2 separate regions of the Homo sapiens genome follow, and region 1 is linked to region 2. Evidence: fine-mapped expression QTL. A gene starts in region 2. The other region holds a variant in brackets. All regions are shown on one strand. Distances are from middle to middle. Region 1 overlaps ARHGAP45 (Rho GTPase activating protein 45). Region 2 holds the start of ARHGAP45 (Rho GTPase activating protein 45).

The links. PIP is the estimated chance that this variant, and not a neighbour inherited with it, causes the effect.
Region 1: its variant is the best candidate, but not a certain one, in a credible set for the expression of ARHGAP45 in fibroblasts (GTEx, PIP 0.68).

What each region holds. Positions count from the first base shown.
Region 1 is chr19:1,085,244-1,090,598 of GRCh38, forward strand. ARHGAP45 (Rho GTPase activating protein 45) reads left to right here. Exons shown (of 23, transcript NM_012292.5): 23 at 417-1,385. The coding sequence ends at 763. POLR2E (RNA polymerase II, I and III subunit E) reads right to left here. Exons shown (of 8, transcript NM_002695.5): 5 at 4,844-4,902; 6 at 4,641-4,719; 7 at 4,229-4,308; 8 at 1,331-3,477. The coding sequence ends at 4,243. Among named protein-coding and RNA genes, the nearest start is that of POLR2E, 7.5 kb to the right of the region's middle. RefSeq lists enhancers at 647-1,146, 3,713-3,812. The variant T/C (reference allele first, on the strand shown) is at 3,043.
Region 2 is chr19:1,064,139-1,069,493 of GRCh38, forward strand. ARHGAP45 (Rho GTPase activating protein 45) reads left to right here and starts at 3,029. Exons shown (of 23, transcript NM_012292.5): 1 at 3,029-3,357; 2 at 4,276-4,606. The coding sequence starts at 3,268. It overlaps ABCA7 (ATP binding cassette subfamily A member 7), which reads left to right. Exons shown (of 47, transcript NM_019112.4): 45 at 23-115; 46 at 793-1,033; 47 at 1,132-1,434. The coding sequence ends at 1,287. RefSeq lists silencers at 949-998, 2,839-3,598, 3,909-4,148, 4,679-4,778 and enhancers at 2,472-2,978, 5,169-5,328.

The DNA of each region.
Region 1 (5,355 bases), 21 kb after region 2:
AACTCCAGTTTTTAGACCATCAGATCTTGTGAAACCCACGTACTATCATGAGAACAGCCCAGGAAAGACGCACCTCCAGGATTCAACCATCCTCCACCAGCTCCCTCCCACAACACGTGGGAATTATGGGAGCTACAAGATGAGGTTTGGGTGGGGACACAGAGCCAGACCCTATCAACACCTCTCTCCTTCCGTTTCTCCCCTTGTCTCTCTCTCCTCCTCCCCGCCATGTCTCTCCATCTGTCTGTCCCTCCCCTTGTCTCTCCTCCATCTCTCCTGTCTCTCCCCATCTCTCCTGTCTCTCCATCTCTCTCCCCCCTCTCCTGTCTCTCCCCATCTCTCCTGTCTGTCCCTCCCCTTGTCTCTCCTCCATCTCTCCTGTCTGTCTCCCCCCGCCATCTGTCTCCCTTTCTTAGAATCCCGAGTTGTGTCCAACGATTCGGACTCGGACCTAGAGGAGGCCTCCGAGCTGCTGTCCTCATCGGAGGCCAGTGCCCTGGGCCACCTCAGCTTCCTGGAGCAGCAGCAGAGCGAGGCCAGCCTAGAGGTGGCTTCTGGCAGCCACAGCGGCAGTGAGGAGCAGCTGGAGGCCACAGCCCGGGAGGACGGGGACGGGGACGAGGACGGCCCGGCCCAGCAGCTCTCAGGATTCAACACCAACCAGTCCAACAACGTGCTGCAGGCCCCACTGCCCCCCATGAGGCTCCGTGGCGGGCGGATGACACTGGGCTCCTGCAGGGAAAGGCAGCCGGAATTCGTGTGAGCTGGGGTGGGGCTGGGACCACAGGTGGCTTCTCTCTTGCCTGCTCCTGTCCCTCCAGCACGTCCCCTGCACCACGGCATAGCTTAGGTGCGCCGTCCTGGGGTCGCTGCCGAGAGCGCCTGGACTTCGACGTCCCACCAGCGGGCGCCTCCTCCCAGAGGCTTCCAGGAGCACGAGGGCCTTGCGGCACAGGACTGTGCCCTGTGCTGTCCCCTGCACCCCGGCTCAGCTGAGCTGGGGAACACTGCTGTCGTGTGAAGTCACAGTGGCCTTGTTGGTGCCCACAGGGCTGTGTGGATGGAGGAAGCTGTCCCTGCCCAGTGCATCCCCCAGGTCATCACGGGGACGCAGGAGGCAGGCCCTGCCCTGCCCTCTCCTCACAGGTCTGTTGCAGGGACTCCAGAAACCATTCTGGGAGCCGTGGATGGGGGCGGAGCTGGGGTTTGGTGCAGTTTCCAGGGTGCAGTACAGCAGGGCCTGAATACTGGCCCTGGACTCCCTTTTCCAGAACACCAGGTGTGGCCACCTGGGGCTCAGGTACACAGTGGGGTCTCTCGGAAGCCACCGTGTGGTTCTTTCACAGGCACGTTTATTTTGCTGAAATAAAAAGTTTTTAATCGGGTGTTTTCTGTGGCAGCTGCAAGCTTAGAAGATTTTCTGTGGCAGCTGCAAGCTTAGAAGAAGGGGCCAGGGAGGGGACAGAGAGAGCCCCGTGGCGTGGCCCTGGGCCTCCCCCTAGGGGAGGGATGTGTGAGGAAGGGAACCCCCCGCCACGGGGCCCCGCGAGGTGGGAGCCCGGGTGGTCTTCACCACAGGCTGTGCAGACGGTCAGGCATCGAATGACCTCGTCACGTCCACCTGCAGCCCAGGGCAGTCCAGGAAAACGTTCTCGATGACGGACGTATCCCCCGGCTCTAAGGTTTCGCACGTCAGCCCCACATGGCCACCAAGCACTGGAAACGTGGCCCATGCGCCTGTGGAACTGCATTTTTTTTTTTTTTTGAGACAGGGTGTGACCCTGTGGCCCAGGCTGGAGTACAGGAGCACAATCGTAGCTCACTGCAGCCTCGGCCTCCTGGGCTCAAATGATCCTCCCGCCTCAGCCTCCCAAAGTGTTGGGATTACAGGTGTGAGCCACTGTGCCCAGGTAATCTTAAAGTTTTTTGTAGAGGTGGGGGGTTTCTCTGTGTTGCCCGGGCTGGTCTTTTAACTCCTGAGCTCAAGCGATCCTCCACTTCCTGGGTTCAAGTGATTCTCCTGCCTTAGCTCCCAAGTAGCTGGGATTACAGGCATGCACCACCACGCCCAGGTAATTTTTGTATTTTTTGCAGTGATGGGATTTTGCCATGTTGGTCAGGCTGGTCTCGAACTCCCGACCTCAGGTGATCCGCCCACCTCGGCCTCCCAAAGTGCTGGGATTACAGGCGTGAGCCACCGCGCCCGGCCACCTCCAGAATTTTCTCATCTTCCCAAACTAAAACTGTGCACATGACACACTCTGTCCCCTCCCTCCTCCCCAGCCCTGGGAACCCCCATCCCCACCCAACTCCCCAGTCCCGGGAACCCCCATCCTACTTCCAGTCTCTGACGACTCTAGTGACCTCCTAGGAGTGACATCAGTGTTTGTCCCTTTGGGTCTGGCTTGCTTTGGCCAAGACAATTTTGAAAAAAGTACATTTGGAGAGAAGGGGAAGCACTGTCCCCATCACACACACAGTCCGCGGCCTGGGGATCTGGGGACCCTGCTGCACAGAACAGTGGGCGCGTTACAGACCACCGACCGCCCGAGGGTGAATTACATCTTAATAAAGCTACTGTGAGAGAACCACGTGGCTAGGTTAAACTTGGGCAGGCGAGGCCTTCTGAAATCAGACAGTAAGCAAACGGGGAAGTAGAGCCAGATCCCAAACGTCTGTAAGAGGAACTGGCCGCAAACCACAGCTGCACAAGCCAGAGAACAACTCCACACCCTCACGGGAAGGGAAGAGACAGACACGCTCACGCCTTACCCAGGAGCACGAAGTGGGAGGGCAGGGCGAGGGCCTGGGGAGACACTGACCCCTGAAGCCAGCGCGAGGAGGGCACACCTGCCAGGCTGACCTCGTGTGCTTGGGGTGAGGCAAGGCCACCTGCTGGAAACCTTGTTAGTCGGCCTGGTTTCTGTATCAAGCAAATTTATTTGCTCAAAACATCTTTACCATTTGAAAACACCCAACCTCCTACAACAACCGAGAACTCCAGAGCTGGCATCTCGCACCCTGGTGGCTTGAGCGCGTGCA[T/C]GGCTGTGAATGGAGTAAAGAGCCGAGGCCGGGCGGGGGCCGCCACGCATCAGGGCCCCCGAGGGAGGGAAGACGAGGGGTGGAAGGCCGAGGGCCCAGGAGGAAGCAGTGGCTGGTGGGAGACCCGGACCCCAAACCCCCAACAGAGGGGACCCAGCGTGGTCTGGGTGAAGACCCGGCACCAGCTGCCCCCAGGTGACCTCCCTCTGGGGGCCTTGTTCCTTCTGAGGCTGCATCTCGCACAAATCCACAGGTGAATGGGGCGGGCTGGGCCACAGGAAGCCTCACCCCAGGACGGGAGAACGTGGGTGGAGGCCACCTGCCTTGGGGAGTCCAGAGGAGCAGCAGCCGTGAGAGCTGTGGGGGCCGGATTCTGGCAGGGCAGGGGCGTTTGTCCTGCAGGGATGGGGGTCGCTGTGTGTCCGCCTCTAGGGGCTAGGAAAGGGGGAGAGTGGTCACACGACAGGGGCAGATCCAGTATGCCCAGGACAGCACAACGCCCACCGAACGTGACGGGGTGCGGGAGGCCTGGCAGGAGGCGGCCCAGGCCGCAGTGCAGAGGCCGGACGGCTCCCTTGTGCCCAGCGGTCACACAGGCGTGGGCAGTAGCTCTGACCTCAAAGGAACCGTGCCAGCGTCAGACCAGGCCAAGCCCCACCCCTGGGCTGAGTGTGAAGTGGGGCGGCCTGCAGGACAGCAGCTCGCCATGACCAGAGTCCAGGGGAAGCTGGGAGGCTCTCGCCATGGGCAGAGGCTGTCCCGCTCCTGAGACTCCGGCCAGTCCCTCCCAAGGTGCCCACTCAGGGAAGGGTTGGCCTGAAGCTGTGCCTCCTCTCTCAGCTCTGGGGTCTCTGGGCAGGTTTCTAAACCCTCTTCTGGAAAGTCCCGCCGCACAACTGCCCTGCAGGTGAACGTCTCCTGCTTCTAAGGTGGGTCAGCGGCGGAGAGACGCACGCCCCGCGTACCAGGACTCTCCCGTCCAGGCGCACAGCCCCAAGAGCTGCAGCCTACGGTCGGGTGGGGTCTGGGGGTCTGGGGGTGTCCTGGGAGCGCCTGGTGGCCCAGCTGGGCTGGTGCTAGGAGGGTCTTGCTGCCGGACAAAGCAAGAACAGCCCTGCACACCGACGGAGGGGACGACACCCCTGCCTCTGACCCCACCTCAGTGCCTGTCCCTCGGCCGTCTCACCTGTCAGGCGGTAGCTACTGCACCAGCCGGTAGGTGATGTACCTGCCAGCCGTCTCACTGGGCCGGATGATCTTCACCACCTGCAGAGACAGAGAGCAGGGGCTGCGAATGCTTGAGGGGTCTCACTGCAGTCACCAGACAGCAGGCGGGCAGCACACGGGCTGGGGATGGCCGGCAGGGGTCCGAGATGGCTGACCCTGGGCTGTGGGACCCGCTCCCTGGGAACCTGGGTCACGCTCTTCTCTGGGCCCAGTGGCCCTGGCTTTAAGAGGGGGATATTGGGGGTGTGGTCTCGAGGTCCCCTCCAGGCCCTGGATCAAGGGGGAGGGGCTGTCGGGGAGGGACAGAAGCCCCCTTCTCCGAGTGGTCAGCTCAGAGCAGCCCCAGGGCCCCTTCTCCCCACAGGGCTCACCTGCCCACGCTTTATCCCAAAGTAGCGCGCCACAGGGTCCCCCGCCTGGATCCTGGGCAGCTGGTTCTCTCGGAGCTTACTGCGAAGCACCGTCAGGAAAATGCCAGACAGGGCCGTTGGGGGGGCAGGGGTGTGTGTGGGGGGGGAACGCGGAAGTCTCGAGGGACAGGGAGGGGCGGGGCCGGTGGGGCTGGAAAGGATACTATCGGGCCAGCAGCTCTGTCACCTCCTCCTTGGTCATGACGACGTGCTCAGGGACTAGCTGCCGAGAGAGGAAGCCACCAGGCATCACCAAGGGCTGGTGAGACCCCACGTGGCTCCCAGGTGCCACCACAGCCCCTGCGCCTTCAGACGGACAAGAGCCCTGAACCCCACCCCGATCCCCGGCACTCAGGGAGCCCACCCACCCCACCCTGGCTCCACAGGCGGGGGACGGAGTCACAGCTCCTGGGGCTTCTGAGGCAGACGGGCTGGGCACAGCCACCTCCTGCTGGGACTCCTCCTGTCCCAGCACTAGGGTCCCTCCACACTCCCAGCAGTCCCGATTCTACAGGCTGGGGTGGGCCCGGGATCTGCATTTTTTTTTTTTTTTTTTTTTTTGAGATGGAGTCTTGCTCTGTCTCCCAGGCTGGAGTGCAGTGGCACAATCTCGGCTCCCCGAGTAGCTGGGACTACAGGCGCTCGCCACCACGCCTGGCTAATTTTTTTGTATTTT
Region 2 (5,355 bases):
TCGTGGTGCCGGGTCCCGACAGCATGGAGGAGTGTGAAGCGCTCTGCTCGCGCCTGGCCATCATGGTGAATGGGCGGTTCCGCTGCCTGGGCAGCCCGCAACATCTCAAGGGCAGGTGAGCCGGCGCGGCCTCCAGGCAGGTGTGGGGTGAGGGTGGGCACGTAGGTAGGCTCAGGGGAGAGGCCAGACGTAGAGCCGGGTGAGGAAAGTTTGGCTCCAACTGGAGAGATGGCCAAGGCTTTAGATTGTCCTGCAGGGGTGACTGAGGGGGCGAGACAGGCTGGGGTGTGCTGGGGGCGCAGGACCAGGAGGCGTGAGCCGGGGGCTCTGGGTGGATTTAGAAGACACAATCAGGTGTGCGTTGGAGTAGGTGCAGCCTGGAGAGGTGAGGGTGGATTGATGGGTGGAGTTAGGGGAGGGCCTGGTTAGTGGGCGGGGCCATAGGAAAGTGGGGCGGGGGTATTTATTGTGTGGGCGGGGGTAGAGTGCAAGGGCGAAAGAGGAGTGTCCGAAAAAGGAGTCAAGTGGGGTGATAGCTTCGAGAGCAACCTGGGCAACCTAGGGAGACCCCATCTCTATAAAAAATTTAAAAATTAGCTGGACATGGTGGTGTGTGCCTGTGGTCTCAGCTACGCGGGCGGGGGGTGGCGGGGGACTGAGACGGGAGGACCACTTGATCGCTAGGGTAGTACAAGTATGGGGCGGGGCCAGAGAGTATTAGGGGCTGGAGGGTGAGCTGAGGTGGGACCTGGGAAAGGCCCGATCCGGTAGCCCTGGCCCCACTCACTGCAGATTCGCGGCGGGTCACACACTGACCCTGCGGGTGCCCGCCGCAAGGTCCCAGCCGGCAGCGGCCTTCGTGGCGGCCGAGTTCCCTGGGGCGGAGCTGCGCGAGGCACATGGAGGCCGCCTGCGCTTCCAGCTGCCGCCGGGAGGGCGCTGCGCCCTGGCGCGCGTCTTTGGAGAGCTGGCGGTGCACGGCGCAGAGCACGGCGTGGAGGACTTTTCCGTGAGCCAGACGATGCTGGAGGAGGTGATCACGGCGCCGGGGTCGGGCTGGGGGAGGCAGGCTGGGGGCCAGGCCCGTGGGCTGACCGTCCCTCTTGTCCCCTCTGGGCTGCCCACCGCTAGGTATTCTTGTACTTCTCCAAGGACCAGGGGAAGGACGAGGACACCGAAGAGCAGAAGGAGGCAGGAGTGGGAGTGGACCCCGCGCCAGGCCTGCAGCACCCCAAACGCGTCAGCCAGTTCCTCGATGACCCTAGCACTGCCGAGACTGTGCTCTGAGCCTCCCTCCCCTGCGGGGCCGCGGGGAGGCCCTGGGAATGGCAAGGGCAAGGTAGAGTGCCTAGGAGCCCTGGACTCAGGCTGGCAGAGGGGCTGGTGCCCTGGAGAAAATAAAGAGAAGGCTGGAGAGAAGCCGTGGTGGTGAAACCGTGTGCATGTGTGTCCTTGAGCCAGGCTGCACACATGTCCACACAGCTGCCTGCACATGCGTCTGGATATGGCTGGCCCCTTGCAAGCTGAGTGTGCACATACGGGCCAAGTGGCGATTCATAGGACACAGGTGTGAGCGTGCCTACAGCTGACCGGATCCCAGCTGTAAATGCCTCTGTGGCCAGCCCAGGAGTTGGGGATGTGAGTGCGGGCCTCATAAGGGCCTGGTCACACCGTCCCTGTCCCCACGTCCCTGCGTGCCTATGTGGGGCTGGCGCCTAAGGGCGGTACCTGTAAGTGCCTGGCCATAAAGTGGGGATGAGGTCAGGACTCAGGAATGTCCTGGGAAGCTTACAGGAGCCCGGTGTCCCGGAGCACAGGCCAGGGCCGGGCCAGAAGCCCATCCGACATCCAGCTGACCCTCACCCTCTGACCCCAGCCCTCAGCGCCATGAGTCGGGGGCAAAGAGTTCTCAAGGGTCTGCTGGGCTGGGTTTGCACTTGGACCTGGGCCTGGAGAGCCAGACTTGGAGCAAGGGGCTGTGGCCTTCATGTCCTGTGCCCCAGAGATCTGCCCCTCCCACCCGAGGTAGGTGGGAATGGGGTTTGGGAAAGGAAAGAGGTTGGGGTTTTGGGATTGGGGGTGGGGTTCTGGAAGGGGACAGCAGGGAGACTTGGGGAGGGGGGAGAGAGTTCACACTGCGGGGTGGGGGTTGGGGGAAGGTAGGAGGCTGGGATCTGTATGCCTGCAGATGCCCCAGCTCTTGGCCAATGCCGCCTCAGGCTGTTATCAGCAACGGGTGCCTGCGTCCTGCTGCCCAGCACGTCCGGTGGTCCAGAGTCACTGGAATGCAGCTTGGGAGGCGGGGCTGGGGACCTTAGCTAAGGGCAGGTCTGGGGCAACATGATATGGCCCACAGGGCTGCTGAGAGGTAACCAGGTGTCCTCAGCATATTCTGCCGATGGTGGGGTCCACACCACACTTTGGGGACCCCTGTGCAGGCAGCCCAGGACCAGGTGGACGTGGGGACCCAGACGGACGTGGGGACCCAGACGGACAGGGCCCGGTAACCTGGATTGTTCTGACTTCCTGGACGTCTTTGCCCCCAGGGTTTCGGTTCTGGGCCTCAGTTTCCCCACCTGTCCTCGACCTGACCCACTTCACGGGGCTGCAGGGCGGGTGATGGGGGGGACCCTACTCTGCCCGGCCCTGCTGGGGCCCGGCCACACCCTAGGGTCTGCAGGAGAGGCGGTGGAGCGGGCTTGCCTTCAGGGAAAAGGGGGCTGCAGGGGCGCAGCTTCGGCCTGTGCGTGTGTCTGGGGTCTGAGGGCGAGGCTCCAGGGGCTTGGTGGCGTCTGAGCGCGTGTGGAGGTCCGGGTCTCTGCGTGTCATCGTGCACGTGTCTGTGCACGCCCACTCGCGTCCGGGAGTGAGAGTCAGCGCCCTGCAGTCGGCCGCCCCGTGCCCGCCAGCGTCAGGCAGGGGCTCCCGGTCCCACCCCGCGAGCGGCGCGGCTCCGAGCTCCCGAAGGCGGAAGCGGGGGGCGCGGCCCGGGGCTGGGGGCGGGGCCTGCGACCTCACCTTCGCGCCCACTCCGCAGAGCCGCAGGCTGAGGCCGGGAAGGGTCGGGGGCGAGGCCGCGTCGCCGCCTCCCCGAAGCCTTTTCCTGTTGGGGGGAGGGCCCGCCAGTGACGGCCGGGCCTGTCACGTGGGCCTGACAGCTGGGGAGGGGGTGGCCGGCGACAATGTGGTCCCGAAGCGGCCAGCGCCGGGAGCTGCAGCGCTGAGACCCCCAGCCCGCCCCCTCGGGCTCCCGGCCGGGGCCCCATCATGTTCTCCAGGAAGAAACGAGAGCTCATGAAAACCCCTTCCATCTCGAAAAAGAACCGCGCGGGAAGCCCCAGCCCGCAGCCCTCGGGGGTGAGTGGAGCCCGGGTGAGACCCGGAGCTGACGCCGGGCCGCAGGGGGACAGGGACCCGCCCTGTGCTCGGGGCTCATGCTGGGGCGGCGGCTGGGGGCTCGTGCCAGCTACAGCCCCTACCGGGCGGGACGGCAGGGGCCACAGCAGAGAGGCCGGGACCCCGGCATTCAGCTCACGGTAGGGACCCTGGGAGTGGTGGCCGCCTCCCTCCACTCCATCCAGGGCTGGCCGCGGGGCCCAGGGAGCAGGAAGGGAGGGTGCCGGGTTGGGACGATGTTGTGTTTGGGCCGCTGCAGGTTGGGGGCTTAGGCAATCTGGGGGCTCTAGGGGCCGTTGAGATGGGAGGGCTGTGGCCTGGCCATTGGGCTGAAGGTTGACCGGGCAGCAGATCCTCTAATGGGATCCACCAGGTTCAGAGGTTGGGGAGTGTCCCCAGGCCTGGGGTGTCTACAAAGCTGGGGGGGGGGTCTACAGAGCTTGGGGGTCCGGGATGTCTACAAGGCCTGGGGCTGCCCATAGGCTCTGGGGTTCCATGGACCTTTAGGGGACAGACAGAGTCAGAAGTGTGTTCACTTAAAGCACCTGCGTTGTAGGAGCCTGAGGGGGGCTTGAAGGGCTGAGGACCCTCCCCACCCCCACCAGGAAGTGGGGACCCCCCTCCCGCGCCTCCCCGCAGGCCCCGCCCCGGCTGTGGTTTGGGCAAGGACCGTTGTTTGTGAAAGCTCTAGGGAAGAGGATGTTGGGTAACAGGTGGGGGGGTACACTACCAAATCTCGGCCCTGTGACCTCTGGCCTTTGACCCCTGTGGGGTCAGGGTGATGGTGGCCCTCCACAGCCCCACTTCATTTCTGGGGAAACTGAGGCCGTGTCCAGGCCGGAAAATCCCTTTAACGAGCTCCCCTCGGACCTGCCCAAGGAGCTGCCCAGGAAGGATGGGGCTGACGCGGTGTTCCCCGGACCAAGCCTGGAGCCGCCCGCTGGGTCCTCCGGCGTCAAGGCCACAGGGACCCTCAAGCGGCCCACCAGCCTGAGCCGCCACGCCAGCGCGGCTGGCTTCCCCCTGTCGGGTGCTGCCTCCTGGACACTGGGCCGGAGCCACCGGAGCCCACTGACAGCCGCCAGCCCGGGCGAGCTGCCCACCGAGGGTGCCGGCCCGGACGTCGTCGAGGACATCTCCCATCTGCTGGCGGACGTGGCCCGCTTCGCTGAGGGCCTTGAGAAACTTAAGGAGTGTGTGTTGCGTGACGGTGAGAGCCACGGGGACACCGAGGCCTGGGTGGAAGACAGAGCCAGACCCAAGGGAGGATGGAGGGAGGGACTTGGGGAGGCTCAGAAGGGAGGGAGGCTCAGATGGCAGGGAGGGCTGTGTGGAAGAGGCCATGACAGCTAAGGCTCTGAGGGATGTGTAGGAGTTTGGTGGGGGAGTCCCTGAGCGTACACTGGCTCAAGAGGGTGCCCACTTTATTTTTTTTAAAGGATCTGATGGCAATTAGGAGGGAAAGGCAGAGGAAATGTCCCATGCACAGGCTCAGAAACACGGAAACAGAGAATGCATTTGGGGGCCAAGGTGTGGGGTGCCGCTGGTGTAGGATGAAGGCATGACAACGCCAGGCAGAAGGGCAATGGGGAGCCATAGAAGGTGTTAGAGCACAGGACAGATGGGGGCAGATCTGTGTCTTGGAATGAAGCAAACTGGGGGTTGGCTGAGGTCTGGGTGGAGAGAGATTCAGGAGGCATGGCGAGGGGCAGGATGGGGTCATCAGGCGGCGGAGGTGCTGGGACCCAGCGGCCTGCAGGCCGGCAGTTCCGTTTTCTCCTCCACGCGGCCGCTGACAGCCCTGCTTCCTGCCGAGTTATTTTCATCTGCTTCCTGTTTGTCCCTGGCAGCCCAGGCGGGCACCTCATGTGCTGCCTTCAGCCCCCGGCTCCTCCCAGAAACCACAGTGCCAGGGTCATGCCAGGCGCTCTGATCTGCTCCCAGCAGCCGCCCATTTTA